7 linked regions of the Homo sapiens genome follow. The protein of the gene in region 1 purifies or fractionates together with the protein of each later gene. This does not show direct contact. Each region holds a gene or a part of one and is shown in the gene's direction. Other genes may lie near its edges.

Region 1 (4,224 bases):
TGGAGTGTAGTGGTGTGATCATGGCTCACTGTAGACTCAACCTCCTGGGCTCAATCTGTCCTCCCACCTCAGCCTCCCAAGTAGGTGGGCCTACAGGCACATGCTAATTTTTGTATTTTTTGTAGAGATGGGGTTTTGCCATGTTACTCAGGCTGGTCTCAAACTCCTGGGCTTAAGCAATCTGCCCTCCTTACCCTCCCAAATTGCTGGGGTTACAAGCATGAGCCAACATGTCCCGCTACATTTTATCTTTTTTTATCCTCACAATGTTTTACAGATGAGGAAACTGAGTCTTTAAAAGGCTGTGCAACATGCTCAAAATCATAGAACTAAGTGATAGAATCTGAATTCAAACCCAAGTCAGTCTGTCTCCAGGGCCTTTGCTCTTAACCTATGATTGTACTACGTGAAGTAGGGATCTGTAGGAGAATTCAGGAGCAATTTCTGGGTAGAATTCCCCCAGCCCCTTTTAAAAAAGTACTTCTATCGGAGATGTGATGAAATATGAATGACAGGCATGATAGTTTTTAGAGGAAAGATGGCATTTACCATATGGAAGATGGACAACTGTGACAGTGGTGGCGGTGGGTAGCTAAAGGGACGCATAAAAATTGAGTTCTTAATCTAATTAGGATTCTTGGTAGTCAATGTTGGAGAGTTTTAAGGTTTTTAAATGATTTTCCTATTCTTGCCTCTGGAGTTTAGAATACATTACTTAGCTCATTTCTATCAGGGCAGTTACTCTACCTACTTGATGTGTATAACTCCAACACATTACGCTTATTCTTTTCGGTCTTTGCATTCTGTTCTGGAACTTCTCACTTCACTCTACCCCTACCCCCAGCCTGTATTACTGGCACTCTCAGGCTTCAACTTAAATGTCATCTCCTTAAAGAGACACTTTTCTGAGCTCTGAATTAGAGGAGCCCTCTTGGTCACTTTTACTTCACTTTTCCTTATTTACTTCATAGCATATATTGTTATGTAATTGTTTATTGTTTGTCTATATATTGTTAGATTTTCTCATAAAAATGAAAGCAGAACATAGATTTTTTTTTTCCTTTGAGGTTACCTCAGTGACTCAACAATGCCTGCAACAAACTAGGTGGTCAAAAATATTTGTTGAACAAAATTGGCCAAAACTGGCATCATCTTCTCTGAACAAAAAAGTGATAAAAACAGTATCTGACTATTCAGTTGGCTGTGTTTCTGTGTCTTTATTTATTTTTTTTTATTTTTATATTCTAAAAATGTTGCGACAATGGTGGCTCAGCAATTTTTTTTTTTTTTTTTTTTTTTTTTTGAGATGGGGTCCCACTCTGTCTCCTAGGCTGGAGTGTGTTGGCCTGATCTCTGCTTACTGCAACCTTCACCTCCCGGGCTCAAGGGATCCTCTCACCTCAGCCTCTAGTGGCTGGGACTACAGGCGAGTGCCACCACACCCGGCTAATTTTTTTTTTTTTTTTTTTTTTTTTTTTTGAAGAGGCAAGGTATTACTATGTTGCCCAGGATGGTCTTGAACTCTTGGACTCAAGTGATCTGCCTGCCTCGGCCTCCCAAAGTGCTAAAGTGCTAGGATTACAGGCGTGAGCCACCGTGTCTGGCTGTCATTTTTTTCTTTTTGTGGAGACACAGTCTCAGTATGTTGCCTAAGCTGGTCTTGAACTCCTGGCCTCAAACAATCCTCTCGCTCCAGCATCCAAAGTGCTGGGATTACTGGTGTGAGCCACTGCACCAGGCTTGTTCCTGTGTTTTTGGGTGTAAGCAGTATCTTAACAGTCTCAATTAGTCTTAAAATTATTTTAGACTAGTTCAGAAAGTCTTTAAGAAAGCTAGAAAAATTATACATCTGAATTTTTTAAAAAAATTTTAATCTGTTTTGAGAGGTACTAGTCAAATACATTGTAAGATGTCCTTCTATTGGAATTTGTCTGATGTTTTTCTCATTAGACTGGAGTTACAGGTTTTGGGCAGGAAGACCACAGAGGTAAAGTGCCATTTTCATCACATCATATCAAGGGTACATGCTATCAACATGATTTATGACTTAATATTGACCTTGACTGTTCATATTGACCTGAAATAGTGTTTGTGAGGTTTCTACAGTGAATTTACTTTTTTTTCCCCTCCTTTTCTATACTGTATTCTTTGAAGGGAAGTCACTGTTTGCAGCCCACACTTAAGGAATGGGGAGTTCCTTGATCTTAGGGTGGAGTACCTACTTAATTTATTTGAAATTCTTGTCTCTCCTTTCCCATTTATTAGTTTAGTCAAGTATTTACTGATAATAGTGTGGACTCAAGTATATTTATTTTATATTTTAGGTTACACTCCAATATTACATTATTTTGTTGTTCAGGTTGTTCCAGCTTTGTCCTTTGGGAGCTTCCTGTATTCCTTTAACATACATGTGTGTGTGTGTGCGCGTATTTGTATTGATCTTTGAGTACTTCCTTACTATCTGGAAATGTTCCAGGCTCATCTTGTGTATTTCTTGTCCCAGTGCTAGAATCAGCCATTTCCCCAAGGTGCCCTGGTTCCCTTATTGGAGAATGCTATTAGAAACAAGACCTGGGTACTGAGTGTTCTCTTTGCTACTGGGGTGTCATTTCTTTTAGGTCCTTTCAACTGTTAGAGCAAAGAAATATATGAATGTATGCTAACCCCATGTATATAGACATATCTATAAATATTTCTCTATGTAGCCATCTGTGTCTATATTAAGTTAAACGAGTTCCATAGATCACTTTCAGTAGTATGGGCGGGGGGGAAAAACATGAGTTCCTACTGGTGTCTCCAATTCTGATCCATTATCACATAGATCATTCTAGCCTCCTCCCCTTGCTGATCTTTGAATTTCCATTCACAATAGTGAAAAACCTAATTTCCACCATCCATTTATTTAATTGTCCAGTTCCATTATATATGGATATACATACATGGATAGCAGTATCAGAATTGCTAACCCATACTCCATGAAAAAAACTTTATCAACTAGAGTACATACTTCTGTGCAGTTCCTTTTGCCCTTAATCTTTCAGACTCCACTCATTACCAAAGCTACTTAGGTCAGAACCTTTTTCCCACCCCCTTTGGTGAAGTTGTTTCACACATCTGTAATATAGATTCCCTTGTCATAGTCTTCATTCTTTTCTGCAATCTCCCAGTCTCCTAAATGACTTTTTAAAATTTGCATACATTAAAGTTCACTCTTTATGTCATAAAAGTCTCGAACTCCTGCCTTGGCCTCCCAAAAGTGCTGGGATTAACAGTACAACCCACTGTGCCCAGCTGACATAAATTTTTAATTCAGTTGGATAAATACCTAGAAGCAGGTTGCTGGATCATATGGTAAGACTAGTTATAGTTTTGTAAGAAACTGCCAAACTCTATTCCAGAGTGGCTGTACCATTTTGCATTCCTATTAGCAATGAATGAGAGTTCCTCTTGCTCCACGTTCTTAACAGCACTTAGTTCTATCTGGTTTTTGGATTTTAGCCCTTCTGGTAGGTATGTAGTGTCCCCACTTTATTATTATTATTATTTTAAAGAGATGGGGTCTCACTGTGTTGACCAGGCTGGTCTCAAACTCCTGGCCTCAAGCAATCCTCCCATCTCAGCCTCCTGAAATGCTAGGATTATAGGTTTGAGCCACTGTGCCTGACCTAGTGTTCTCACTTTTTAAAATTATTCGTTTTCACGACATTACCTTTTTTGAAAATAAATGTTAGTTTTTTAAGAGGAAACTTTTTAAAAATTAACTTTATTTTGGAATAATTATAGATTGTTCCAACAGAAAAGTTGCAAAGATGATGTGTAGGATTCCTGCATACCTCTCACCCAGTGTGCCCTGTTATTAACATCGTTTAAACAAACTCCAGATTCTGTTTGTGTTTCAACAGTTTTTCTATTCATGTGCCCATTCTGTTTCAGGATCCAATTCAGGGTAACATATTGCACTTCGTGGTCATCTCTATTAGCCTTCTCTGGTCTTTGGCAATTTCTCAGTCCTTCCTTGTTTTCATGACCATGACCATTTTGAGGAGTACTAGTCAGTTGTTTTGTAGACTGCCCTTCTCTTTGTCTTTGTCTGATATTTTTCTCATGATTAGTCAAGAATTACGTGTTTTTGGAAAGAATACCATAGAATACCATATCATATCAGGGGTTTTGTGATATCCATGTGACATCATTAGTGATATTAACCATGATCACTTGATTAAG
Region 2 (4,130 bases), on another chromosome or scaffold:
ATTGTATTTAATTCACCATTCGAAATTCAAGTGAAAGTATGAATCTGATATTAACAGACATAAAAGTCCATTGCAGCTTTGAATTAACATCCCCAATGGGAGTATTGTACCATGATGTTTAGTACATTGTTAACAAACATGTCTTATAAAGATGAGTAAGGCATAGTCTATGCTCTTGAAGCATGTTTTAATTATTCTGTATGTAAAATGAAACAGAGGACTAGATTAAGTCAATGAAAGAAGAGATAATGAATATCAAATTTATTTCTACTTATAAATGCATACTATGCTTAAAAGTCTTAATTGTGTCTTATAAAATTATACTGTTACTCTATTCTTCTATATATTGCTCTAATGCCAAGAACATAGTTTCTTTAAAATAAAAATTTTTTTTTACATTTACAGTGATGGAGAGATCTATGATGATATTGCTGATGGTAAGTCTTATGTAGTACCACCCTAGAGAACAGTCATAGTGAATTTACTGTTTTTATAAATGCTAAAAATAGCTTGTTGGATTAGAGACTTCCAATCTGATCAGAATTTGAATCACTTGAAAATGTTAGAAAAGGTAAATGCCCTGGCATAATGGGGGGAAAATACCGCATTTCCCACAAGATGGAAAATTAAGGAAAAACCTTATTTATTTCTTTGAAAACAGAAGTATAAAAATATTTGGGAAATTTTTTATTGTACTGTGACTCATAATAAGAATTTCTTTTATCCAAGCAAATAAACATTTTTGGCAAATAAATAGGTACTTATTTCATAACCAGTAATACCAATATTCTCTAAGCATCATATAGTTCCAAACTGTAATCTAAAAAATTAATCTAACTGAAATGATGCAGTGTTGATCATGATTTCCTTTAGTCTTTTAAACTTATGAGTCTTGCTCTTTAATATCTTCAACCTCGTTCAGAGTGACTACCAAAAAGTATATGACTAAGTGCCACATAAAATAATCTTGAGTCTCATTTTAATAGAGAATAAATCTGTCCAGAAATTTTGTTGAATTATATACTAAATAATAAAAGTTAAATATATGATCTTCCATTTAACTCATTTTTTATAAAGTGAGCCAGTTCTATTTTTTTTAATCCTTAACCAGGAGAGTATGAATCACCCACATTTCCAAACTTGGAATACTTAGAGAATATGTTTTTAATAACTATATTTAAATTTGTATTTTTTCCTTTCAGGCTGCATCTATGACAATGACTAGCACTCAACTTTGGTCATTCTGCTGTGTTCATTAGGTGCCAATGTGAAGTCTGGATTTTAATTGGCATGTTATTGGGTATCAAGAAAATTAATGCACAAAACCACTTATTATCATTTGTTATGAAATCCCAATTATCTTTACAAAGTGTTTAAAGTTTGAACATAGAAAATAATCTCTCTGCTTAATTGTTAACTCAGAAGACTACATTAGTGAGATGTAAGAATTATTAAATATTCCATTTCCGCTTTGGCTACAATTATGAAGAAGTTGAAGGTACTTCTTTTAGACCACCAGTAAATAATCCTCCTTCAAAAAATAAAAATAAAAGAAAAAGGAAAATCATTCAGGAAGAAATGACCTGTCTAAAAAAACCTAAGGAAGAATAATAATATAAGAAAGGAAATTTAAAAACATTCCACAAGAAGAAAAATTATTGTTTATACTTCTACTTATGGTTATATCTTATATTCTCTATTCAAGTGACCTGTCTTTTAAAAAGGCAGTGCTGTCTTACCTCTTGCTAGTGGGTTAAATGTTTTCAAAAATTATAGCAGTAGTAGAAGTTTTGTATAAAATTTGTCCTTATTTGTTAATTGTATATAAATGTTAATTATTTGATACGAATGTTATGCATTTAGTATGCACATTGAAGTCTAAACTGTAGAAGAGTCTAAAACAAGTTCTCTTTTTGCAGATTCACATACTAATGGTTTAATTCTGTGCTCTGTTTAAAGTACTATTATAACTAGAGTAGATCTGAATGAGGATAACCCTAAAATCATGAGGAATGGAAGAATGGACCTTGAAACTACCTAGGCTTTTATGCATGGCACCTCTTTATAATGAAGACACTTTTTAAAGTTTTTGTTTTTGTTTCAATTACCGCTAGATTTTTTTTTCTCTTTTTTTAAAATCCATTTTACTGGAAAGTTGGCCAGCAGAGGGAGTAGAAATTATTAAAATTCTAGTGTTTGGATTGGGCCCTTCTCTAACAGTACATACTCATTCCCAAAGCAATCCAAAAACAAAATGTGAACCATTTGGGTTTCAAATGTTAAGAACACTAAATAGCATGATTTAAAAAATGAAAAATGCTAACACCCAAGAAAAGAAGATATTAAGTGCTTTTTAACAACTCCTAGAGTACAAAATGAGTACATCATAATGCTGGCTCTTCTACTAATGAACCATCGAGTGATATTGAATAAATTATTTATCTTCTCAGTTTCCTTATCTGTAAATTACAATATTAGACTAAGTAAGTTTTTCCAACTCTTCACTACCAATTACCTTAGGCTTTTATAATGCTCCGCCTACTTCAGTCCCATGTTTCAGAAGCTTTTGTCTATTTTTTAAACTCATTGATTAAATAATGATTAATGCATTCTCCACATTTTAATATTGCAAAGGCCCATTGGAGTTTCTGAAGTGGCTCCACAGAATTGAAATAATTTCAAATAACTGTAAAGGAACTGAAAATCTTCACAGAGATGAAGTGGGGTTTCCATTAGGTGCTTTGAAATTTGATAACAAATCATCAACTTCCACTGGTCAATATATAGATTTTGGGTGTCTGAGGCCCCAAGATTAGATGCCACTAATCTCCAAAGATTCCCTCCAATTATGAAATATTTTAATGTCTACTTTTAGAGAGCACTAGCCAGTATATGACCATGTGATTAATTTCTTTTCACACTAGATAAAATTACCTGGTTCAAAAGTGGTTTTTGTTTATTAAATTTGGTAATAAATATATATAATACACAGACAGGATAGTTTTTATGCTGAAGTTTTTGGCCAGCTTTAGTTTGAGGACTCCTTGATAAGCTTGCTAAACTTTCAGAGTGCCCTGAGACACTTCCAGCCATCCCTCCTCCTGCCTTCATTGGGGCAGACTTGCATTGCAGTCTGACAGTAATTTTTTTTCTGATTGAGAATTATGTAAATTCAGTACAATGTCAGTTTTTAAAAGTCAAAGTTAGATCAAGAGAATATTTCAGAGTTTTGGTTTACACATCAAGAAACAGACACACATACCTAGGAAAGATTTACACAATAGATAATCATCTTAATGTGAAAGATATTTGAAGTATTAATTTTAATATATTAAATATGATTTCTGTTATAGTCTTCTGTATGGAATTTTGTCACTTAAGATGAGCTGCAAATAAATAATACCTTCAATGGATAACCTTGCCTCCTACTTCATTAAAAAAATTGAGGCTAGCCAGATGCGGTGCCTCACATCTGTAATCCTAGCACTTTGTGTGGCCGAGGAGGGCACATTTCATGAGCCCAGGGGTTCCAGACCATCCTGGGCAACAAGGTAAAACCCTGTCTCTACAATAAATACAAATAATTAGCTGGGTGTGGGGGCACATGCCTGTAGTTTCAGCTACTTAGGAGGCTGTGGTGGGAGGATCACTGGAGCCTGAGAGGTCGAGGCTGCAGTAAGCCATGATTGTGCCACTGTCTCAAAAAAATTTACCCTGTCTCAAAAAAAAGAAATAAATATATTTTTTTAATATTGAGGCCATCAGGCTTCCTCTCTCTTAACTTGATCCTACATCTACAAAACAGTCTTTCTCTGCATCCAACCTTGACTCTAGCTTCAGCCTCAGAAGACGGGATATCTCCTCTTCAAGACCAAACCTTCTACCAAGACTCCTAATACTTTGACTCCTATTTTGTGTCAGAAATTAAGATAACTAAACGCAATTCCTTTCAATTCCCTACAACCTTTGACCTTAACCCATATCCAGACACTGTCCCAGAGAATAAGATGTCATGCCTTAAATTCAAAGCCATAACCTTTGGATCCCATTTCTTCCTGCCTTTTCTGGAGTGTTTGTCTTTTACAATTCATTCTTTCCCATTCTCCTTCTCCTTTTCTGCCTCCCTCTGG
Region 3 (4,224 bases), on another chromosome or scaffold:
ATAGTAGGACTCTATTCCTGAATAAACTGTTCTGTAATTTCATTTCAAATGAAATTGGTTGGCATTTCATTGACTCTGCAGATCAATTTTTGGAAGATCTTAACAATATTAAGTCTTTGCATCCATTAATATGTAATAGTCCTCCATTGACTCAGGTCTTTAATATCAGTGAAGTTTTGTAGCTTTCTATATAGAGGTTTTATGTTTCTATAGTTAAATTAATTTCTAGGTATTGTGATTTTTAATAAGTAGTATTTTTATAAATAGTATTTCCTCAGGTTTCTTTCAGTTTCTACTAGTTTGCTGGTATTTTGAATATAATTGATTTTTGTGTTTTGATATTGAATCCAGCAACTTTGCTAAATTAATATCTCCTAATAGTTACCCAACATAATGAGTGCATATGATCACCAAAACATGTTCAAGGAGGTTCATAAAACCCCAAATTAGAAATAACCTAGCTTTCTGTCATCAGGGGAATAATCACATTTATACAATGGAATACTGCTTAGTAATACAGCAACACAGGTGAATCTCACAGACAAAGTGTCGAGTGAAAGAAGCCAGATTAAAAGGTTAACATACTAATAAGTCTATTCCTAGGAAGCTCAAAATAGGGAAAAACAGTCTGTTGTGATAAAAGTGGGAATAACACTTACCTTTGGGGGAGTTTTGACTAGGAAGAGGCATGAGAGAGCATTGTAAGGTGCTGGTGATGCTTTTTATCTTGATATGATTAGTGGTTACATGAACATATGCACTTTGAAAATTCACTGAGCTGTAGACTTAAGATGTATGTATTTTATGTATATTATGCTTCAGAAGAAATTGAGCCAAATTCATGTGTTGAAGGTTTTTAAAAAATTAACACTTTTTTGGAGCAGTTTTCAGTTTATAGAAAAATTGAACAGGAAGTACAAAGAATTCCCATGTAATCCCTCACCCTCTGTATCTTCCTAGTTTCCCCTATTATTAACATCTTGTGTTAGTGCAGTAGACTTGTTACAGTTGCTGAACTAGTATATTAAATATTTGCATGGTTAAAAACTAGCAAATTAAGGCATTACAGAATTGATTAGAAAGAATCTTAGAGATGATTCGTCAACCAAGAGGACTTTGCTGTGTCACAAAGCTAAATGGGAACACACCTAAGGGAGGATCTTACATAGACTTTATTTTTATAAAGCTTTTTGACTACTATACACATGTATCAACATTTCTTTTTTTTTTTCTTATTTCAATAGTTTTTGGGGTATAGCTGGTTTTTGGTTACATGGATAAGTTATTTAGTGGTGATTTCTGAGATTTTGGTGCACCTGTTACCGAAGCAGTGTACACTGTACCCAATATGTAGTTTTTATCCCTCACCACCCTCCCAGACTTCCCCACAAGTCCCCAGAGTCCATTATCTCATTCTTATGCCTTTACATCCTCATAGCTAAGCTCCCACTTACATGAGAGAACATACGATATTTACTTTTCCACTCCTGAGTTATTTCACTTAGAATAATGGCCTCTGGTTCCATCAAAGTTGCTGCAAAATATTAATTTGTTTCTTTTTATGGGTGAGTAGTATTCCTTGGTGTATATATACCACAGTTCTTTATCCACCCGTTGGTTGATGGGCACTTAGGTTGGTTCTATATCTAAGCCATTGCAAATGCTGTTGCTATAAACATGCGTATGAATGTGTCTTTTTTTCAAATAATGACATCTTTTCCTTTGGGTAGATACCCAGTAGTGGGATTGCTGGATCAAATGGTAATTCTACTTTTAGTTCTTTAAGGAATCTTCATACTGTTTTCCATAGTGGGTCTACTAATTTACACTCCCACCAGCAGTGTAAAAGTGTTCCCTTTTTGCCACATCCACACCGAATCTATTGTTTTTGACTTTTTAATTATGGCCATTCTTGCAGGGTAAGGTGGTATCTCATTGTGGTTTTAATTTGCATTTCCCTAATGATTAGTGATGTTGAACATTTTTTCATTTGTCTGTTGGCTGTGTATCTTTTTTTGAGAAATGTCAATTCATGCTCTTTGCCCACTTTTTGATGGGATTAGTTGTTTTTTTTCTTGTTGATTTATTTGAGTTCCTTGTAGATTCTAGCTATTAGTCCTTTATCAGATGCATAGTTTGCAGATATTTTTTTCTACTCTGAGTTATCTGTTTACTCACTGATTATTTATTTTGGTGTGCAGAAGCTTTGTAGTTTAATTAGGTCCCATTTATTTATTTTTGTTTGAGTTGCCTTTGCTTTTGGGATTTTAGTCATGATTTCTTTGTCTAAGCCAATGTCCAGAATAATTTTTCCAATATTATCTTCTAGAATTTTTATGGCTTCAGGTCTTATATTTAAGTCTTTGATCCATTTTGAGTTGATTTTTGTATAAGGTGAGAGGTAGGTATTCAGTTTCATTCTTCTACATGTGGCTTGCCAGTTTTCCCAGCACCATTTACTGAATAGGGTGTCCTTTCCCCAATTTATGTTTTTGTATGCTTTATTGAAGATCAGTTGGCTGTAAGTATTAGGGTTTATTTCTGGGTTCTCTATTCTGTTCAATTGGTCGATATGCCTATTTTTATAGCAGTACCATGCTGTTTTGGTAACTATAGCCTTGTAGTATAATTTGAAGTCAGTTAATGTGGTACCTCTAGACTTGTTCTTTTTGCTTAGTCTTGCTTTGGCTATGTGGGCCGTTTTTTGGTTCCATATGAATTTTAGGATTGTTTGGATTGTTTTTTCTAGTTCTGTGAAGAATGATGATGGTATTTTGATAGAATTGCATTGAATCTGTAGATTGCTTTGGGCAGTATGGTCATTTTCACAGTATTGATTCTTCCATTTCATGAGCATGGGATGTGTTTTGTTTGTGTCATTTGTGATTTCTTTCAACAGTGTTTTGTAGTTTTCCTTGTAAGATTTTTCACCTCCTTGGTTAAGTATATTTCTAAGTATTTTATTTTATTTTTTATAGATGTTGTAAAAGGGATTGAGTTCCTGATTTAATTTTCAGCTTGGTTGTTGTTGGTATACAGCAGTGCTACTGATTTGTGTACATTGATTTTGTATCCTGAGACTTTACTGAATCCATTTATCAGATCTAGGAGCTTTTTGGATGAATCTTCAGGGTTTTCTAGGTATCTAATCATATTATTGGTAAACAGTGACAGTTTGACATCCTCTTTTCCAATTTGGATGCCCTTTATTTCTTTCTCTTCTATAAGTACTCTGGCTAGGACTTCCTGTGTTATGTTGACTAGAAATGGTGAAAGTGGACATTGTTGTGAAGGACGTTTTGTTCCATTTCTCAGGGGGAATGCTTTCAACTTTTCCTCGTTCAATATGATGTTGACTATGGGTTTGTCATATATCGCTTTTATTACTTTGAAGTAAGTCCCTTGTATGCCTGTTTTGTTGAGGGTTTTTATCATAAAGGGATGCTGGATTTTATCAAATGCTTTTTTGTATCTGTTGAGATGATCATATAGTTTTGGTTTTTAATTCTGTTTATGTGATGTACCACATTTACTGATTGGCCTATGTTAAACCATTTCTATATCCCTGGGATGAAACCTGCTTGATCATGATGTGTTATCTTTTTGATAGCACATGTATCAGTATTTCTGTGTATAGATTTTGCCTTGTATAATTAAACACATTTTTTAAGGAAAAAAAATTTAAGGAAAAACTATTTTTAAGGAAATATTTTCAAGAGATGATAAATAAAACCATAGATACTTTTTTGGGTCTTTTTCCCCCTTATATTTATTTCAAAAAAGTATTTATATATTTCATGATTAAGTAAATTCAACTGTTTTAGAAAACAGGGTATGTCCATGTTTAACCATGTTGCCAGTACTAGGCATCAAAGGCTTGGGTAGTTAGTATGTAAGCAGAATTCTGTGCATAAGTTTCTATTAAATTTGATTGTTTTCCTTGGAGAAAGGGATTAAAAAATTTAAAAACTTCTGCCTACCAGTTTGTTACTTTTAATGTGAAATGATACACAAAGTTGGATCAGTATATTGATGAAATTTTTAAGGGTTCTTATCCAGAGAGTTCCCAGTGCCCTTCATTTTATAGGTTTTGCTACTATTATAAATGTAATAATGCCCAGCAACTCAGATAGATAAATGACATAATGAATATTATTTAAGGAATATATCTGTAATAAACTGTTTGTACCTACAGATACCACCTTGTCTTCTTTTCTGTAATTA
Region 4 (4,224 bases), on another chromosome or scaffold:
TGGGGTTTCACTGTGTGTTAGCCAGGATGGTCTCCATCTCCCGACCTTGTGATCTGCCCACCTCGGCCTCCCACAGTGCTGGGATTACAGGCGTGAGCCAGCCAGGCCTAGATCTACATTTTCATTGATGTCGTGAATGAGAATGATGGATATGCTGATGAGACTTGCCAGTAGCCTGAACTTGAGATGGGTAGCTAATATACTGGATTTAGAAAGACTAACAGCTTAAATTATGCTGTATCTAACACTATGCAGAAATTTTCTCTCTAAAAATACTTTCTGGGCTGGGCGAGGTGGCTCACACCTGTAATCTCATCACTTTGGGAGGCCGAGGCAGGCAGATCACTTGAGGTCAGGAGTTGGAGACCAGCCTGGCCAACACGGTGAAACCCCATCTCTACTAAAAATACAAAAAAAAGGCTTGGCGCAGTGGCTCACGCCTGTAATCCCAGCACTTTGGGAGGCCGAGGCCGGTGGATCACGAGGTCAGGAGATCGAGACCATCCTGGCTAACACAGTGAAACCCCGTCTCTATTAAAAATACAAAAAATTAGCCGGGTGTGGTGGCTGGTGGTGGGTGACTATAGTCCAAGCCACTCGGGAGGCTGAGGCAGGACAATGCTGTGAACCCAGGAGGCGGAGCTTGCAGTGAGCCGAGATTGCGCCACTGCACTCCAGCCTGGGCGACAGAGCGAGACTCTGTCTCAAAAAAAAAAAACAAAAACAAAAAACAAACACAAAAATAGCTGGGTGTGGTGGTGGGTGCCTGTGATCCCAGCCACTCGGGAGGCTGAGGCACGAGAATCACTTGAACCCAGGAACCAGTGGAGGTTGCAGTGAGCAGAGATCACTGCACTCCAGCTGGGGTGACAGTGTGAGACTGTCTCAAAACAAAAGCAAAACAAAAAAAAATTTCTGATATTAATACAAATTTATTATAGAAAATTAGGAAAAAAGATTTTTAAAAACCCACTCATAATTGCCATACTCAGACAATGCTTGTTGCCATTTTGGTGTATGTCCTTTTAGAGAACAACTCAAAATTGGAATCACTACACATGATGTTTTCTTTTTTTTTTTTAACTTATCAAAAATTAAGAATTATTATGAAGCTCTATTTCTTCAGACAGTCTGGAATAAGGTGCAAAACTGTACAAATTGACCAGCAAAGGAGAAAAGAGAGCCCAGAAGCAGACCAATACAAAAATGGAAATTTTATTCATGACCGAGATGACACTGCAAATTGCTTAGGAAAAGCTGACATTTTTAATAAGTGGCACTGGAACAATTGGTTGTGTGGTTGTGTGAATTTAAAAACTGAAATTGGAACCTTATCTCGCACTATGTATAAAAAACCAAATCCATGTGGATTAAGACTATACAAGGCAAAACTATAATGTTGAGCAGAAAGAGTAAGTTTCCAGCATACACATGTTTTCTAAAGCAAAGAGGATGCAGTTAATAAAAGGGATTATAGTATTGTTGTGAGGCCTCTAGAATGTAGAATCATGATGCCTGGGGAAAGCCTGGTTCCTTCAGTGATTCTGGGACAAATTACGTCACATCTCTGCCTCCATGTTTGCATCTTAAAATGAGATGATAACAGTACCTGTGTTGATAAATGAGAGAATACATGTGAGTACTTAGTATACTCCTTGGCATATAGTAACTACTCAGTATGTTTATTAATATCAAAGCCATGGCATCTTAGACTCTCAGGTCTTGATGGGCCCTAGAGGTCATCTGCCAAAATCCCCTCATTTTACAGGTGCGGCAACAGAGACTCAAACGAATTTTTTAGTAGATTTTTAGTAGATTTTAGATTTTTAGTAGTAATTTTTAGTAGATTCAGATATGTCCTTGCTCCCTCTCTGCTCAGAGGCTACCTCACGAAGCATTCTTGGTTTTCTTGCCTCCCTCTCCTTTGCCAGAAGGAGGCCATGTTAGTCTAGCTTTTGTTGGTGCTCTCATAGCCTTTTTTATGTACCTCTTCTGTAGCACCAATGTAGAGGTTGGATTTATGCCTTTATACTTTTGTCTCCTCTGCTAGTGTGTAACTTCCTCAAGGGCTTGGCAAATCTACTTTGTATCTTCAGAACGAAGCTTCTTGACAACTGCTAAATGAATGTGTTTTGGATGCTGGGGGAGAAAAGCTAACAAGTAGTAGAACCGTATCCAGCTGGTGGAAAGGGATAATTCCATTGTGTGTTATTCATTCATCTTACAAGTATTTGTTGAGTGCTTACTCTGCCAGACAGGGGCCTATACAGGGGATACAGTGCTATGTAGGACAGACTGGCCCCTTTCTTGTGGAGCTTACAATCTAACGGGAAAGACAGACATAAAACAACGAGTTCCGTGCTATGCTTATTATTTTGTCGAATGCTATGGAGGAGAATACGGGTGCCAGGAGAGCCAAGAACAGAGCACCTTGGCTTGACTGGGTGAAGAGAGGTCAGGAAAGGCTCTTCTGAGGAAGGAGTTGGTCAGCCTCCATCTGAAGGATGAGTACAGGGTGGCCAGCCAGAGGGCAGAGTGGAGTCCTGGATGTGGGAGTAGCATGTGCAAAGGAGGAGGAAGGAGCACAGCACATTCTAGGAACTGAAGGAAGACCCGAGTGGCAGAGAGTAAAGCTGAAGCTGGTGAGGTGGCCAGAGGTCAGATTCTAGAAGGCTTTGTTGATCATATTACAGTTTTTTTTTTTTTTTTTTTTTGAGCGAGGGTCTTACTCTGTCACCCAGGCTGGAGAGCAGTGGCATCATGGCGTCATCACGACTCAATCCAGCCTTGACCTCCCGGGCTCAGGTGATGCCCCCAACTTAGCCTCCAGGTAGCTGGGACTACAGACATGCACCACCATGCCCAGCTAATTTTTGTATTTTTTTGTAGAGACAGGGTTTCACCATATTGCCCAGGCTGGTCTCGAACTCCTGGCCTCAAGCAATCAGCTCACCTCAGCCTCACAAAGTGCTGGGATTACAGGCATGATCCATGGCACCTGGCAATATTACAGATTTTTTAGTTCAGCCTAAGAGCAATGGAAAACCTAATGGGTTTAACTCTGAGTACTTGCTTTTAGAGAGATGTTGACATAGGAATAAAGGGTGACCAAGATGATAAAGGATCTAAAGTTGTGTCCTGTTTGAAATATTGAGTCCAAAGAAGAAAGAAAAGAGAGTTATGTGATATATGAAGGAATGTTATGTGTTAAGAGGAAGTAAGCTTGTTCTGTGTTGCTGCAGAAAGTATACCTCAGACTATTAGGTAGATGTTCAAGGATGCAGATCTTGCATAAATGTCAGAGACAGCTTCCTGATTCCTAGAATGGGTCATGAACAGAATGGGCTGCCTCATGGGATGCAGGAGGTGTGCAGGGAGAGGCTGCCAGTCCACCTGCCCGGGACTGTCAGGAAGTCCATGTATGGCGGGAGTGGCCTTTAAGAGTTTTTGTGCTCCAGGAGTCCTGGGTCTGTAAATCAGGTGAAGTCTGCACATTTCATACTGTCTTGCAAATGATTCAACAAACCTGAAACTTGATTTCATCTCTTTCTTTAATCTGAAAATTCATAAACTTGAGATTTTGTAAAAAATAAATTTGTAAGATGGAATATGTCCGTTTTTACTTTATTAATATTAGATATTTGAAGTTGTATTTAATTACTTAGGTAAAAGAATCCTTAGGGAACAAAGAACTGTTGTTATTGGTAGGTTAGTCTGAAGCTGACAGTCATGGCTAAAGAAAGCCGACATGTAAAACCAAGTCATTATTTCAAGCAAAGAGGAAAATAACATATTCTGAGAGAACCCAAAACTCCAGAATAACAAGCACTGGCTACTCAAGGGATGCTTTTATATTCATTTGTAAATCAGAAAAGAAGGCCAAAGAAAATAGAGGAATTGGATGTTCCTTCTCCTAGGGGAAGTTTGGACATCATGCATTTAAGCACATTCCTGTAATGGAAATAAGAAGCAACAGGCAAGAGATCCCTAGTGCTGTGTAGCCTGTAATCCGCAATCAGGCAGAGACTCGGGGACTCAGAGACTCGAAAGGCAAGGGAGGTAGGAAGTAATTGTGGTAGAGGTGATGGATGGAGCAGCATTCTCATTTGGAATGGGAACAGGGCGTAGGAATTTTCTCCAGGCCGTCTGAATCTGGAGGAGCAGCTTGAGAGGAGAGAATGAGAGAGATCCAGGCGCTAGGGTAGAATGGTAATGAATGTTTCC
Region 5 (4,224 bases), on another chromosome or scaffold:
TGTGGTATTAGGTGTTCCTAGAAATTTAGCCTTAAAATTGTTTCTTAAGCTTTTAATAAACTCATTTTCTGCCTCATAAGCCAGAGTTAGCTTCTGTTGCTTGCAGCTAAGAACTGCTGATAGATGCTACTTGGAGATTTGTGCTGTTTTGAAAACTTGATTAATGTGTATCCCAAACCCCAAGTTTACCATAATTTATGGTATTCCCCTAATTCCCTAGAATTCATCACCTCAGAATTCCACCATTTAATCACTAATTTAAATGTCTCATTCTTGAATCTTAATCTCTTTCTTTCTAGTTGCTTGCTAGAGATGCATTTTAGCATAGTGGTTAGCACTATAGCCTTTGGAGCTACATTGCCAGAATTTGAATCCCAGCTCTGTCATTTGTCAGCATTGTTGTTTCTTACGCAAATTGCTTAGCTTGTCTGTGCCTGTTTCCTCACCTTTCAAATGGGGAAAATAATGGTACCTAATTTATGTGATTTTTAGTGAGACTTTAATACATGCAAAGTGCTTAAAGTGACTGGCACAGAATAAGCACTTCATGTGTATCATCATTATCATTATGATTAACTGCTATTTTGGCTAGTCTTTATTTTCATTCAGACCTCGGTATTTCACCTCTCTACATTTCTGTACCTGTTTTACTTCTTTGTTCAGCTTAGATTTCATGGTCCTTCATTTTATTAACTGCATTTACTTTCTTACCAGTACTTTAAATTCACATCCAAGGTTCCATTCTACTCATGTATCCCCAAAGGCAGTCAAAAATTGCTGCAGAAAGTCATACAGTGGGGTACATGGCTATCATCATAAATGGGAGCCGAATCTACACTGACCTTCAACATGGACCTGCAGTACTGTAATGTTTCTGCAGTACTACTATGTTTCTTTGGTCAGACACTTCTACCTTCTTCAGTAAGATTTTAGATCTTTTACTTTTCTAAAACCAGAGATCCTGGGGTTTTATGTGAAGTATGATTTGTAAAACTTGACAGTGTGTTCGAAACCTTTAAAAACATTGTGCCAGATAAAAGCATTCTGAGGACCAAATTCAGCAGCCTAGTAGTTTTCTAACTCCAGTATAATCAGTGTGGGCAGGCTAGTTAAATAAGTTATCAAGTGGCAGAAGTTAACTTGAGAATCTAGGTGCTGGCTGGGCGCAGTGGCTCACGCCTGGAATCCTAGTACTTTGGGAGGCTGAGGCGGGAGGATCACCTGAGGTTGGGAGTTTGAGATTGGCCTGGCCAACATGGTGAAATCCTGTCTCTACTAAAAATATAAAACTTAGCCAGGTGTGATGGTGCACGCCTATAATCCCAGCTACTCGGCAGGCTGAGTCACAAGAATCACTTGAACCCGGGGGGCGGAGGTTGCAGTGAGCTGAGATTGCGCCACTGCACTCCAGCCTGGGCGGCAGAGTGAGACTGTCTCAAGAAAAAAAAAAGGAATCTCGATGCCAACCTTTTCAAAGTAGTTAAACAGATGCCTGGGACTCTGCCCCATATATTTAGTAGGTTTGGAGTAAAACCCATAGCATAGATATTTTTCAAAAACTTAGCAGATATTGCTGATGCAGAACCAAGCTGAAAACCACTAGCCTGGCAAAAAGCTCTGCACACTTTAAGTGCGAAATAATGTTAGAATAATGAATGCTTTACTACTGCCAAATGAATTTTGAATGAATAAATGATTTTACAGCCTATTTTAGTTTCCCTGGTCTACATGCATGTTGCAACTGAGTTAAGCACTGTTTAAGTCCAGGCACAGAAAAGGAAGAGAGATCTGTTTTTGTTTTTGTTTTTTTTTGGTGGAAGAATACAAAATAAAATGTAGGTATAGCAATCACATCCCTCCTTCTTAATCTTATCTCTGGGCTTACAGTAGTATTCTTATGATTAGTGGTCTTATGACCAGGGCATTCTTCCTGTAGCAAGCAATACAAATAAAATGTCTAGCCCCTCTTATACTAGAACTGGAACGTGCTGAGCTCCTGTTTTCCAGTGCTTACAAAATTGGCCTAGAGCAAGCAAGATGAGTACCATACTACCCCAACCCAGGGCTGTTGCTAAGTAATAGGCCTTTAAAGCACTTTTTCCTTCTTTTTCACCTTAGCTCCTGTCCTTCGGAGCCAGCCTGAATTCTCACTACCTCTTTCCTAAGGAGGGCTCTTACATCAGAAAATACAGAAGAGGTTTAATATTCTTTAGTTCATTTACCCCGTGGCGTTGTTACAGAGGAATGAGAGTCTATTTTATCTCAGAGAAAAAAGTTTGATGATATTAGATAAATCAAAACATTCTCTCGCTTCATTCAAAATAATCTTTGGTACATTTTAAATCAGCATGTTTAAACAAATCAATATGGTCTTTGGTTCTGTTTTTCAAGGGAAGATAAAACATGATTATATTCTGTCAAGGAGACTACCTGTACATAGGCTGTTTCCTACTATGCCTTTTTCATCTCAGCCAAGGTTAATTCATTACAAACAGAACTTTACCATCCTTTGTATCTAACTCAGCTACTGACAGTGAGAAGAAAATGAAACAATCCAATTACTGTGGATTTTTTCAACCCCTTTGCCAACACATATACGTAAGCACACATCTCTGTTCCTTCTCACCTCCATCCTCAGCTATGTCTTTCCCCTTCTCTGCCCTGTGTGTCCCTTGACCCGTTTTTCATATCAGGCTTTTAGAAAAGTAAGGCTACATGAGCCACACTGCCAGCTACTTAGAATTATCCCTTTTGGCGTTGTGTTTGATAGGAAAAGGATTTCTAGAGCTTCAGAGGCAGTTCTTTGTGTGTGTAAGAGGGTGAAGGGGAGGAGGGAGCAGATGAAGGAGGGATGTGTTCTATCTCAGTTAGAAATGTTAATTAATTTTCCCATAGAAACATTTATTATAAATGGTTATTAGGTTCCAGAGTACTGTGAGTGCCGATAGTGCTATTATTTTCCTATGAGGAAATAATGTTCTAAGTACTGAATAACTAACATGAGTGCATTACGGAACATCACCCATTAGTAAATGATAGAAATTACCTATGCAGTTTTACTTTGTGGTTGTCTTTTGTATGAAACATTGTGGCAACTAGGAAAAGCCTTCAGATTTCCTTTGTCTTTTTGTTTTTTTTGGAGACAGGGTCTCTGTCACCCAGGCTGGAGTGCAGTGGCGTGATATTGGCTCACTGCAACCTCCGCCTCCCGAGTTCAAGCAGTTCTCATGCCTCAGCCTCCCTAGTAGCTGTGATTACAGGTGCCTGCCATCACGCTGGGCTAATTTTTGTATTTAAACGGGGTTTTACCATGTTGCCCAGGCTGGTCTTGAACTCCTGGCCTCAGGTGATCTGCCAGCCTCGGCCTCCCAAAGTGCTGGGATTACAGGCATGAGCCACTGTGCCTGGCCTCCTTTGTTGTTTTTTTTAAGAATAATCAAAGGTTACTGGACAGAGATATTCTAAGATACTTATTCCTGTGAGGACATAATCAGCATTTTGTGACTGGTAAAATACTAAACAGAGACATTTGAAATTGATGCTGTTAAATCCTTACCAAGGTATTCATTCTTAGTGAATTTTTTTTTTTTTTTCCTGGTACAGCTGTGACTCCAGGCAGGATCCAGAGAGGAGTTTTCCAGTCTCTTCTCTGGGTTTTGTAGAGACTTACTTTATCCTTCTATGTTAGCTTCTTAAAGCACCACATCAACCTTAAAAGGGCATAAGAAAGGGCAAATTCTTAATGCATTTTTTAGAAAATTGAATATTAACTCTTTTTTCTTGGTTGGGTTTTTTTTTTAATTTTTTAAATATCAGATTTAGTGAGGTATAATTTGTATCAGATAAAATTCACCAAATGTATGCAGTCATGAAACCATGACCATAGTCAAGACATAGAATATTTCCTTTACCCCAAAAACTTTCCTCATGCCCCTGTGCAGTCAGTTCCCTCTCTCTAGCTCCTGGCTACCACCAATCTGTTTTTTATCCCTATAGTTTTGCCTCTTCCATAATGTCATATAAAATAGAATGATACAGTAAGTTAAGTGTAGTCCTTCAGGTCTGGCTTCTTTCACTCAGCATAATGATTTTGAGATCGTTTTATGTGGTTAAAATAAGGTATGATTTCACAAATCACGCAGTTTATTACCATACAGAAAGAATTTTCCCTGCCTTTTTCACAATGTTTAGAGAGGGAGAATAACAAGAACACATCTCACAGGG
Region 6 (4,224 bases), on another chromosome or scaffold:
GGTCAAAGTAACGTCTGTATGTGAAGTGATTCTCCACCTGCCTGTCTGCTGCAATCTGGTGTCCCTCTTCTTTATCTGCGTGGGGGTTAGAATTTTTTAGAAACTGCACATCAGACTTTCCATAGAGCTGCCCATTCACTTCCTCCACAGCCTTTAATTCAAGATAGTAAACCACAGTAGGTTTAGCTAAGAGCACTTAAGAGTTATTATTCCTTAGAGCAAGTTGTGCAGACTTGGCCTGAAACCCAGATGATATTTGTCTTCATCGAAATCAATTTAGACCCTGGCTAGTTACTCCTTTCCTTTCCGAATCTCTCAGCCTCATCTACTCTCCTCATTTTTATGTCCCTGCACAAGGAACACAATGAGATCATTTCTTCCAGGTCACAGAGCTCTTGTGAACCTTATGTAGAAAGACAAACTTATTTTACTGCAGGGGTAACATATTAAAGAACTTGATTCTTCTCTCAAATATTCAAATTCAGCGGCAATTACTTTAGTTGTGAGAAAAAGCAATTTTGGATTATATGAGCTTGATAGCTAAACCAGGATAATTTTCCATTTCCTTACTTTTGTCTCCACTGCCAGATTCATATTTTCCCTTAATTTCTTATTTTCCTGTTTACTATTATTATTATTTTAAATTTCAGATTCAAGTTCTTCCAGAAGGAGGTGAAACACCAATCTTCAAACAGTTTTTTAAGGACTGGAGAGATAAAGATCAGAGTGATGGCTTCGGGAAAGTTTATGTCACAGAGAAAGTGGCTCAAATAAAACAAATTCCCTTTGATGCCTCAAAATTACACAGTTCTCCGCAGATGGCAGCCCAGCACAATATGGTGGATGATGGTTCTGGCAAAGTGGAGGTATTTACCTGTTTTTGTTTTTATCAAGCCCATTAATGCCAGTGTATGTAGGGGGAGGGTGGGGGAGATCACTTGAGGACAGGAGTTCGAGATCAGCCTGGCCAACATGGTGAAACCCCACCTCTACTCAAAATACAAAAATTAGCCAGGTGTGATGGAGCTCGCCCATAGTCCTAGCTACTTGGTAGGCTGAGGCATGAGAATCGCGTGAGCCTGGGAGGTGGAGGCTGCAGTGAGCCAAGATCATAACACTGCACTCCAGCCTGGGTGACAGAGTGAGAAATGTGTGTATACACACACACACACACACACACATAAATGTGTATATATACACATATATCTGTGTGTATATATACATATATATTTATAAATGTATATCTAAATATATTTATACATATTTAATGGCTCTCCACAGCCTTCCTGAGAAGATCCATCTTCAGCTGGACCCTTGACCCTTTCCGTCATCTTGGCTTCACCCTTCCACTGCCTTGAGGACTGACTTCCCCTCTGCCATCTAGCTAATGTTCCTACGCCTCCTTGGCAACTCAGTTAAATCACAAGCCATACCTTTTCTGAGAAGGCTTCCCTCAGCGCTGAAGTGGCCTTTCTCTGTGCTCAACCTCTAGCGATACTTCTCACATAATTTATCATATACCTACCACAGAGTTGTTCATTTACTGCCAGATTTCTCCTAGAGCTCTCATCGATTCCTTGAGGACAGGAATGAAATATTTCATCTCTATATTCCTAGGGCTTACTACAATTCTTGGACCAAAGTATATGGTCAAGAAATTAGGGAAATAATTTTTCCTCTTTTCAAAGACGTGAAGCGTGAATCTAAGCGGCATGGGTGTTGGAGAGTGGGAAGTGCCAAGGGAGAAGGTCACAAATGTCCCTCATGGCTGTTGTCAGAGGGGTATTGACTTCTGGGTCTGCATCTGTCTCCTGCTCAGACATTCCTGCCAGAGCTCAGCCCTCCTGGCAAACTTGGTCCCCAGCACCAGCTGTGTCCTGGCTGCAGCCTTCTCCTGTGCCATCCTAGGGCTGCTGAAATCTGGGGGCTCTCTCTCGGATCTTGTGCTCTCTCTAGGATCTAAGGCTTCTGCTCACTAGGATAGTATGGGGTGGCCTCTCTCTAGAAGCACTGCACTGTTCCTGTCCACTTGCTTATCTTCAGATTTCAAAGCAAAGAGTCTGCCCTTCCCAACTGAGAACTTAGGCAAGTGTGCGCGCGTGTGTGTGTGTGTGTGTGTGTGTGTGTGTGTGTTTGCTTGCATGTACACACACAGTGCCTGGCAGCCTCTCCTTCGTTTGTTACTCTCCTGTTTCATCTACAATTCTCATCTCTCCAAGTTGGAGGGTGTTTAATCTGTGCTGAAGATGAGGAGGCAGAATGAAAGTGGTTCTGCCTGCTTTTCTCCCAGCATCACATTTCGGTCTTATTCCTGGATGGCACCTTTTAAAAACAGAAGTCATATTATTGGCATGGTCTTAGTCTGTTCAGGCTACTATAACAAAAGTACCATAGATTGGGGGTTTAAGCAGAAACATGTATTTCTCACCAGTCTGGAGGCTGGGGAGTCTAAGCTCAAGGTTTTGATGGGCTCAGTGTTTGGTGGAGGATCCACTTTCAGGTTCATAGACTTTTTGCTGCATCCTCACATGGTGGAAAAGGAGCTAGAGAGCTTTCTGATTATAAGGGCACTAATTTCACTCATGAAGGCTCCAGCCTCATGACCTAATTACCTCCCAAAGGTCCCACCTCCTAATACCATCACACTGGAGGTTAGGATTTCAACATACATTGTGGAGGGACTCAAACATTCAGTGTGTTGTAGCATTTTTAGTATTTGGTCACAGTCTATCAAGTTTTGCCTGGGAAAATAATAGTCCGCTATCTTAAAGCACAGGGAAAAAAATATATATATATGTTATTTCATAATTGAAGAAAAAAATTAACTATAAAATAGATATATATTTCTGAGCTGAATCTTGCAGTTTTTTATTCCACTGGAGTGTCATGTTATTTCCACTAGTAGATGAAACAATAAGTATTTATTAATCAATGGGCTCGGAACTGAGCTTAATACTGTAGAGGAAGCAAAAGACACATAAAAGTAGTTAAAATGTCAATAAATTGGCAAATCGATAACAATTTCTTTGCTTGATTTGTAAACTAGTTAATAAATAATTTAAAAGTTGTTTAATAATGGATTTGAACCAAAAATTATTTAAAGCTTATGAGAAATATTATTAGATCAAGAAAATTGTAATTTGTTGTATATATTCCATTCCTTCCAGATTTGGCGTGTAGAAAACAATGGTAGGATCCAAGTTGACCAAAACTCATATGGTGAATTCTATGGTGGTGACTGCTACATCATACTCTACACCTATCCCAGAGGACAGATTATCTACACGTGGTGAGTTTATACGGGTAAAGATCTCGAGTTCCACAGGAGCCAGATTTTGCTCCAAAGTATTAAATTCTATGCATTATGGGGTAGAATAATCCTATAATCATCCCAGTGAGATTTGTATAGCATGCATATAGTATTTTCTTTTTACATGATTTTGACTATGTTTTGCAGTTGCCATCCACAGGCAGCAGGAGTCACATAAAGATCATGCTATCTAGTCTAGGCAAAAAGTTTTGATATCCTAAACCAGTGATGTTCTCCTAGTGGATATGTAGTTGAATATCTCATCTTGTATGCAGGTTAACACTGCAACAGCAAGTGTCAGGTACCATGGTTTCTTATGGTTAAAATTCACAGAGGTCCATCCTAATTGGAACTGCAAAGTTGCAATATGGCAAAACCTGTAGGAGATACAATTTGTGATTCCACTGATACCTCAACTTGATGCAATTCTTATTCTTGTTTCCATTAAATTCACAAGAATAATGGAAAAAATATGCAACTGTGTTTTCATATTACATGGTTTTGCATGATGATTTAATTGAAGTCTAAATTTGCCAATGCCCTGCTCAAGGAGGAAATGATCAAATGTCCAACCAAGTAATTTATGTGCATACACCATGCTAGGATATGTCAAGGGATAGGGATTCTGCAACAAATTATATAATGTGAAATTCTCTAACTTTTTATTAAGTGAAATCAGGTAAAAATAGAATATTGCTAAGACGGCTGGAAAAAAGAAAATAATTCTTAAAAAAGATCTTCAAGCAGAGAAATGTGGGCTGTGGGCGTAAGGTACAAAGGCAGGGCAGACGCCTACCTTTGCCTACATAGTGATAACAACCTATAATAGGTATATAGAATATAGATGCATTCAGTCCTCTGCTGATATGGTGACATTTCTTTTTGGTGAACCTCACACCGAGACAGTCACATGC
Region 7 (4,857 bases), on another chromosome or scaffold:
TGCTCATTGCTGTCCATGGACACTTGTTTGCAATTTCACATAGGTTAGGGTCCTTTCCATAGAGAGGCACCTGGGGACTCCTGTGTGTTCCATTGTTAATGGTTTGAGGAACAGGGAGTAGGGCACCTAGGATAACTGTTTTTGACTTTATAGAGTAGGATGAAAAAGCTTCCACTTCACTTTAATATGGTAATCATATAAACACCATACCATTTATCCCAAATAACACTTTGGAGATATTGGATATTGAATATAAAGACAGACATTAAGGGTCTAATTTCATGATGTGTCATGCTGAATTGCAAGATGGCAGGACTATAATTTTAGAGGAAGAAGAGATCAGGAGGACTCCCCTAAGTGAGGAGTGTGGGGAAAATGTAAAAGATCCAGGTTAGAAGAAAGAGACACACATCATGAGATTTTCGGAATCATGCTGGAACTATGGACCATGTCACTTTCCAGAAAATAAAGGAAACAAATGCTTGAAAGTAGGAGCATGAGCTTGAGCATGGAGCTTTTTTCATTAGAGAGAGATTCTTAAAATGCCAGAATGAATAGAGTTGTAAAACTTTAGCGAGCCCCTACTTAAAATCCCTCCTCCCCACCACCACTATTTTAAACTTTAAGTGACTCCTTGGTAGTCACACAGGTAACATTTCAAAATGGTGATCTGGAATCCAAGCGACCCTTCCTTTGGGGAATTTGTTTGTTTGTTTGTTTTTAGTTTGGGAGGTGGTTTCAATCTGAAGAGTCCTTTCTGGAATAAACGAATCTTTCTGTTGCATAGGAAGGCTCTGGGTCAGGAAGGATATTTAAAAACCTAATTACTGTTCTAAACAGTGTTAAAATAGAACAAGAACCAAAGCTCAGTACGGGGCATTTCCCTCATAGGCTGAAGGTGCGCCCAACATAATTTGGAGTACAGACTCAGAGGCACCTGAACACGCGCCAGCTCAAGGTGCTCCGGCTGAGAAGGACGGATGAAGATGAACGCTCAGGGCCTACTAAATTCAAAGTCTGTACGTGAAAATCCCCTTTGGCCTGGTGAGATTGGTTGGAACCTTCTATTTAGGAGAGCCCGGCTCGCTCGCCTAAAACTGGAGCTTGCATGGAAGAGGGCACTTTTTTTTTTTTTAGACGAAGTCTCACTCTTGTCGCCCAGGCTGGAGTGCAATGACCCGATCTCGGCTCACTGAAACCTCTGCCTCCTGAGTTCAAGCGATTCCCCTGCCTCAGCCTCCCGAGTAGCTGGGATTACAGGCGTCCGCCACCACGCCCTGGCTAATTTTTGTATTTTTAGTAGAGACAGGGTTTCACCATGTTGGCCAGGCTGGTCTCGAACCCCTGACCTCAGGCGATCCGCCCGCCTCGGCCTCCCAAAGTGCTGTGATTACAGGCGTGAGCCACCGCGCCGGACCAGAAAGAAGGCACTTCTTAATAGTAGGCTCAGAGCTTGAAGTAGTAACTTTGAGAAAATTCAGTGATTCTCCAATTACAAAGCATTCTCCAATTACAAAGCAAGGACAACAGATAAAGTTGCCCTTGAGACAACTGTATTTTACTTAATGATAAAGAAACATTTTTGCAGTTTTATATCCCAGAGTAACCGCCACTAAAGGCGAGTGAGACTCATTGCAGGCCTGTACAGTGCGAACCAGAGTTCGGGCTCCAGTTCCGCTGTCTGCGGGTCTCGCGCGCCCCCTCCCGGCGGCCCAGCCCAGAATGAAGGCCTTGGCTGGGGAAGCGAAAGCGAAAGCTGCCCGAGCCCTGACGCCCGCCCTGGCCGAGCGTAGCTGGCGGACCAGAGCCGGTAGCGAGGTTGGGAGAGACGGAGCGGACCTCAGCGCTGAAGCAGAAGTCCCCGGAGCTGCGGTCTCCCCGCCGCGGCTGGTGAGTTGGTGCGGAGGGGAACCTGGAGCGCCAACAGGGACGCAGCCCAAGTGACTACCCACTCCACGCTCCTGCTTCCCAGTCCCTCTGCACCCGGCGATAGGAGGGAGCGGAGCCCGGACCACTTAGCTCGCCGCGGCAGGCGGGGGTGGGGGTGGGGGTCCGGGGATTTTTTTTTTTTTTTTTTAAGCACGAGGCTCCTGATGGTCATGCTTCCAGCTCCCCAGAAGGCCGAAAGCTGTCTGTCGTAGGAGGGGTGTACGGATGAGCACCGGTTACTCAGGAGAGCTCTCAGGGTTGAATAGGATAAAATGAGAAGCCGATGGACGGGTTAGGCGGAGCCGGGCGGGTAGGAGGGCAGGGACAAGGATTGGGACTCCACCCCCATGATTTCTCATCTCGTATCCGTTGACAGAGCCATGCGGCTCCCTGACCTGAGACCCTGGACCTCCCTGCTGCTGGTGGACGCGGCTTTACTGTGGCTGCTTCAGGGCCCTCTGGGGACTTTGCTTCCTCAAGGGCTGCCAGGACTATGGCTGGAGGGGACCCTGCGGCTGGGAGGGCTGTGGGGGCTGCTAAAGCTAAGAGGGCTGCTGGGATTTGTGGGGACACTGCTGCTCCCGCTCTGTCTGGCCACCCCCCTGACTGTCTCCCTGAGAGCCCTGGTCGCGGGGGCCTCACGTGCTCCCCCAGCCAGAGTCGCTTCAGCCCCTTGGAGCTGGCTGCTGGTGGGGTACGGGGCTGCGGGGCTCAGCTGGTCACTGTGGGCTGTTCTGAGCCCTCCTGGAGCCCAGGAGAAGGAGCAGGACCAGGTGAACAACAAAGTCTTGATGTGGAGGCTGCTGAAGCTCTCCAGGCCGGACCTGCCTCTCCTCGTTGCCGCCTTCTTCTTCCTTGTCCTTGCTGTTTTGGGTGAGTCAGGAGAGGACGTTGTGAGTTGGAGGTGGTAAAAGGGCCTGGGCACCAGCACATTCTTGTGTTATTTTTCATGCCTCTTTCAGGTGAGACATTAATCCCTCACTATTCTGGTCGTGTGATTGACATCCTGGGAGGTGATTTTGACCCCCATGCCTTTGCCAGTGCCATCTTCTTCATGTGCCTCTTCTCCTTTGGCAGGTAGGTGGTGGGCAGCTGGGTCCATTTGCTAGCCCCAAATCTTTATAGGGGTCTTCACTTCCCTAACTCCATTTCTAGGCCCTTTCAGGCGCAAAACACAAAAATACTTAAACTAAAATATGGTGAATGTAGTCACCATTCTGTTTCATCTATCCATTCATTTCTTCCTTCGTTCATATTCATCCAATATCTTCAAAGTTTATCTGATCTTATTATAGGAACAAGTTATGAGTGAAGGTAGTACAAAAGGAATTTAAGTCTCAGATGGAATGTCTCTCAGTTGTCTCTCAACATTCCTAGGTCCATGAAATTCCATTTCTTTCTGCCTCCTACCTCCTACCCCTAAGTCTGTCTCCAAAGTATCTCTCCAGGGTCACTCCCTCAGGATGGGTATGCTTCTCCCTTTCACTCTTCTTTCCCAGCTCATCTTGCCAGTCCCTGAAGATCTTACTCTGAGGCTTATCACCTTTCTTTCCAGAATCATTACTCTTTTCCCTTCACTTGCTTTCCTTTCTCTTTCTAGACATACTCAAACAAACAAACTGTTTGATAAGGCTGGGACTGGGATGAGGTGAGCGAGGCACCTGGGGTGCAAAGTTTAAGGAGGTGTGCACTCACCTTACCCAAATCCCAGCCGGCCTGATTGTCTCTATTTTTATGGTCATACTTAATTTAGAGTACCCTCGAAAACCATTTCATTGTGCCTTCATTCCATCCTGGCTGCTTTCTGCTGAAACTACAGTCGTGCACTGCATAACGAAGTTTAGGTCAATGATGGGCCACATATAAGATGGTGGACCCACAAGATTATAATACCATATTTTTACTGTACCTTTTCTATGTTTAGATACACAAATACTTACTTCTGTGTTACAGTCGCCCACAGTGTTAGGTGCAGTTATATGTTGTACAGATTTGTAGCCTAGGAGCAATAGGCTAAACTACATGGCCTAGGTGTGCAGTAGGCTATGACATCTAGGTTTGTGTAAGTACACTCTATGATGTTCATACAACGATGAAACCATCTAACGACACATTTCTCAGAACACATCCCTGTCATTAAAGTACAAACCCTCATTATATCATGTCTGACTCTCCCAAACGCCTCTTCAATATGGTAACTAAATTTGTATTAGAAACATATATTTTGTAAAATACATGCTTTTATGCTTTATATTTTTTCCTCTAAGTGTTACTGTAGCATGTAGTTGGTCTAAGAGGGATTTTCCAACTCGAAGGATGAAAGATGGGAATCACATGACTCTGGGGCTCCAGAGAATTGTGGGGGCAGGGAATTTATTATTGCAGTTCCCATGATGAAGTATCTATGATGACAGAGAAGGGCTTTGGGTATGGGGCAGGAAGGAGACCAAGGCGGAGGAGACGCACAGAGGGACAAGCCTGAGGGACGCTGGGACAGAAGCAAGCACTGGGATACTTGTTTTCACAATATCTTTTCCCTTCTATTGTAGTTTTCTATTGTGTCTAGTACAGAGTGCACTCCATAAATACTTGTAAATTTGTACATGTTATGATTTTGTTCTCACATCTAGCTCACCATGTCTCCTCTTTCTTCTTCCTCTGTGTATTCCTTACCTCTTCTCTCTCTGTGTGTCTGTCTCTCATTTCTTTCTCTTTTGCCCCTCCTGGCATGCTTTCCCCTGACTTTGCGCTTCTCTGCACTCCTGGCTTGCTCCTCTGTTTCACCCGCTGGCTTGCTCCTTCTCTGCATCTCCCTCCCCTCTTATTCTCCTACCCCACAGCTCACTGTCTGCAGGCTGCCGAGGAGGCTGCTTCACCTACACCATGTCTCGAATCAACTTGCGGATCCGGGAGCAGCTTTTCTCCTCC

The links.
Region 2: the proteins of CKAP5 (region 1) and FYB1 purify together in Homo sapiens (tandem affinity purification; one study listed by IntAct). This does not show direct contact.
Region 3: the proteins of CKAP5 (region 1) and SLAIN1 purify together in Homo sapiens (affinity purification with mass spectrometry; one large-scale study listed by BioGRID and IntAct). This does not show direct contact.
Region 4: the proteins of CKAP5 (region 1) and DDX31 purify together in Homo sapiens (affinity purification with mass spectrometry; one large-scale study listed by BioGRID and IntAct). This does not show direct contact.
Region 5: the proteins of CKAP5 (region 1) and INTS7 purify together in Homo sapiens (affinity purification with mass spectrometry; one large-scale study listed by BioGRID and IntAct). This does not show direct contact.
Region 6: the proteins of CKAP5 (region 1) and SCIN fractionate together in Homo sapiens (co-fractionation; one large-scale study listed by BioGRID). This does not show direct contact.
Region 7: the proteins of CKAP5 (region 1) and TAP2 purify together in Homo sapiens (affinity purification with mass spectrometry; one large-scale study listed by BioGRID and IntAct). This does not show direct contact.

What each region holds. Positions count from the first base shown.
Region 1 is NC_000011.10:46,835,873-46,840,096, reverse strand, and holds part of CKAP5 (cytoskeleton-associated protein 5), read left to right. Parts: intron 1-4,224. UniProt on the Homo sapiens protein: Binds to the plus end of microtubules and regulates microtubule dynamics and microtubule organization. Acts as a processive microtubule polymerase. Promotes cytoplasmic microtubule nucleation and elongation. Plays a major role in organizing spindle poles.
Region 2 is NC_000005.10:39,104,538-39,108,667, reverse strand, and holds the end of FYB1 (FYN-binding protein 1), read left to right. Parts: intron 1-405; coding exon 406-437; intron 438-1,202; coding exon 1,203-1,225; 3' UTR 1,226-3,416; downstream 3,417-4,130. UniProt on the Homo sapiens protein: Acts as an adapter protein of the FYN and LCP2 signaling cascades in T-cells. May play a role in linking T-cell signaling to remodeling of the actin cytoskeleton. Modulates the expression of IL2. Involved in platelet activation.
Region 3 is NC_000013.11:77,756,213-77,760,436, forward strand, and holds part of SLAIN1 (SLAIN motif-containing protein 1), read left to right. Parts: intron 1-4,224. UniProt on the Homo sapiens protein: Microtubule plus-end tracking protein that might be involved in the regulation of cytoplasmic microtubule dynamics, microtubule organization and microtubule elongation.
Region 4 is NC_000009.12:132,663,207-132,667,430, reverse strand, and holds part of DDX31 (ATP-dependent DNA helicase DDX31), read left to right. Parts: intron 1-4,013; exon of another isoform or gene 4,014-4,059; intron 4,060-4,104; exon of another isoform or gene 4,105-4,206; coding exon of another isoform or gene 4,207-4,209; intron 4,210-4,224. UniProt on the Homo sapiens protein: May have DNA helicase activity and RNA helicase activity. Probably have ssDNA and RNA dependent ATPase activity. Plays a role in ribosome biogenesis and TP53/p53 regulation through its interaction with NPM1.
Region 5 is NC_000001.11:212,025,060-212,029,283, reverse strand, and holds part of INTS7 (integrator complex subunit 7), read left to right. Parts: intron 1-3,601; exon of another isoform or gene 3,602-3,723; intron 3,724-4,224. UniProt on the Homo sapiens protein: Component of the integrator complex, a multiprotein complex that terminates RNA polymerase II (Pol II) transcription in the promoter-proximal region of genes.
Region 6 is NC_000007.14:12,625,934-12,630,157, forward strand, and holds part of SCIN (scinderin), read left to right. Parts: intron 1-650; coding exon 651-866; intron 867-3,167; coding exon 3,168-3,289; intron 3,290-4,224. UniProt on the Homo sapiens protein: Ca(2+)-dependent actin filament-severing protein that has a regulatory function in exocytosis by affecting the organization of the microfilament network underneath the plasma membrane.
Region 7 is NC_000006.12:32,835,686-32,840,542, reverse strand, and holds the start of TAP2 (antigen peptide transporter 2), read left to right. Parts: upstream 1-1,803; 5' UTR 1,804-1,890; intron 1,891-2,305; 5' UTR 2,306-2,309; coding exon 2,310-2,802; intron 2,803-2,891; coding exon 2,892-3,006; intron 3,007-4,769; coding exon 4,770-4,857. UniProt on the Homo sapiens protein: ABC transporter associated with antigen processing. In complex with TAP1 mediates unidirectional translocation of peptide antigens from cytosol to endoplasmic reticulum (ER) for loading onto MHC class I (MHCI) molecules.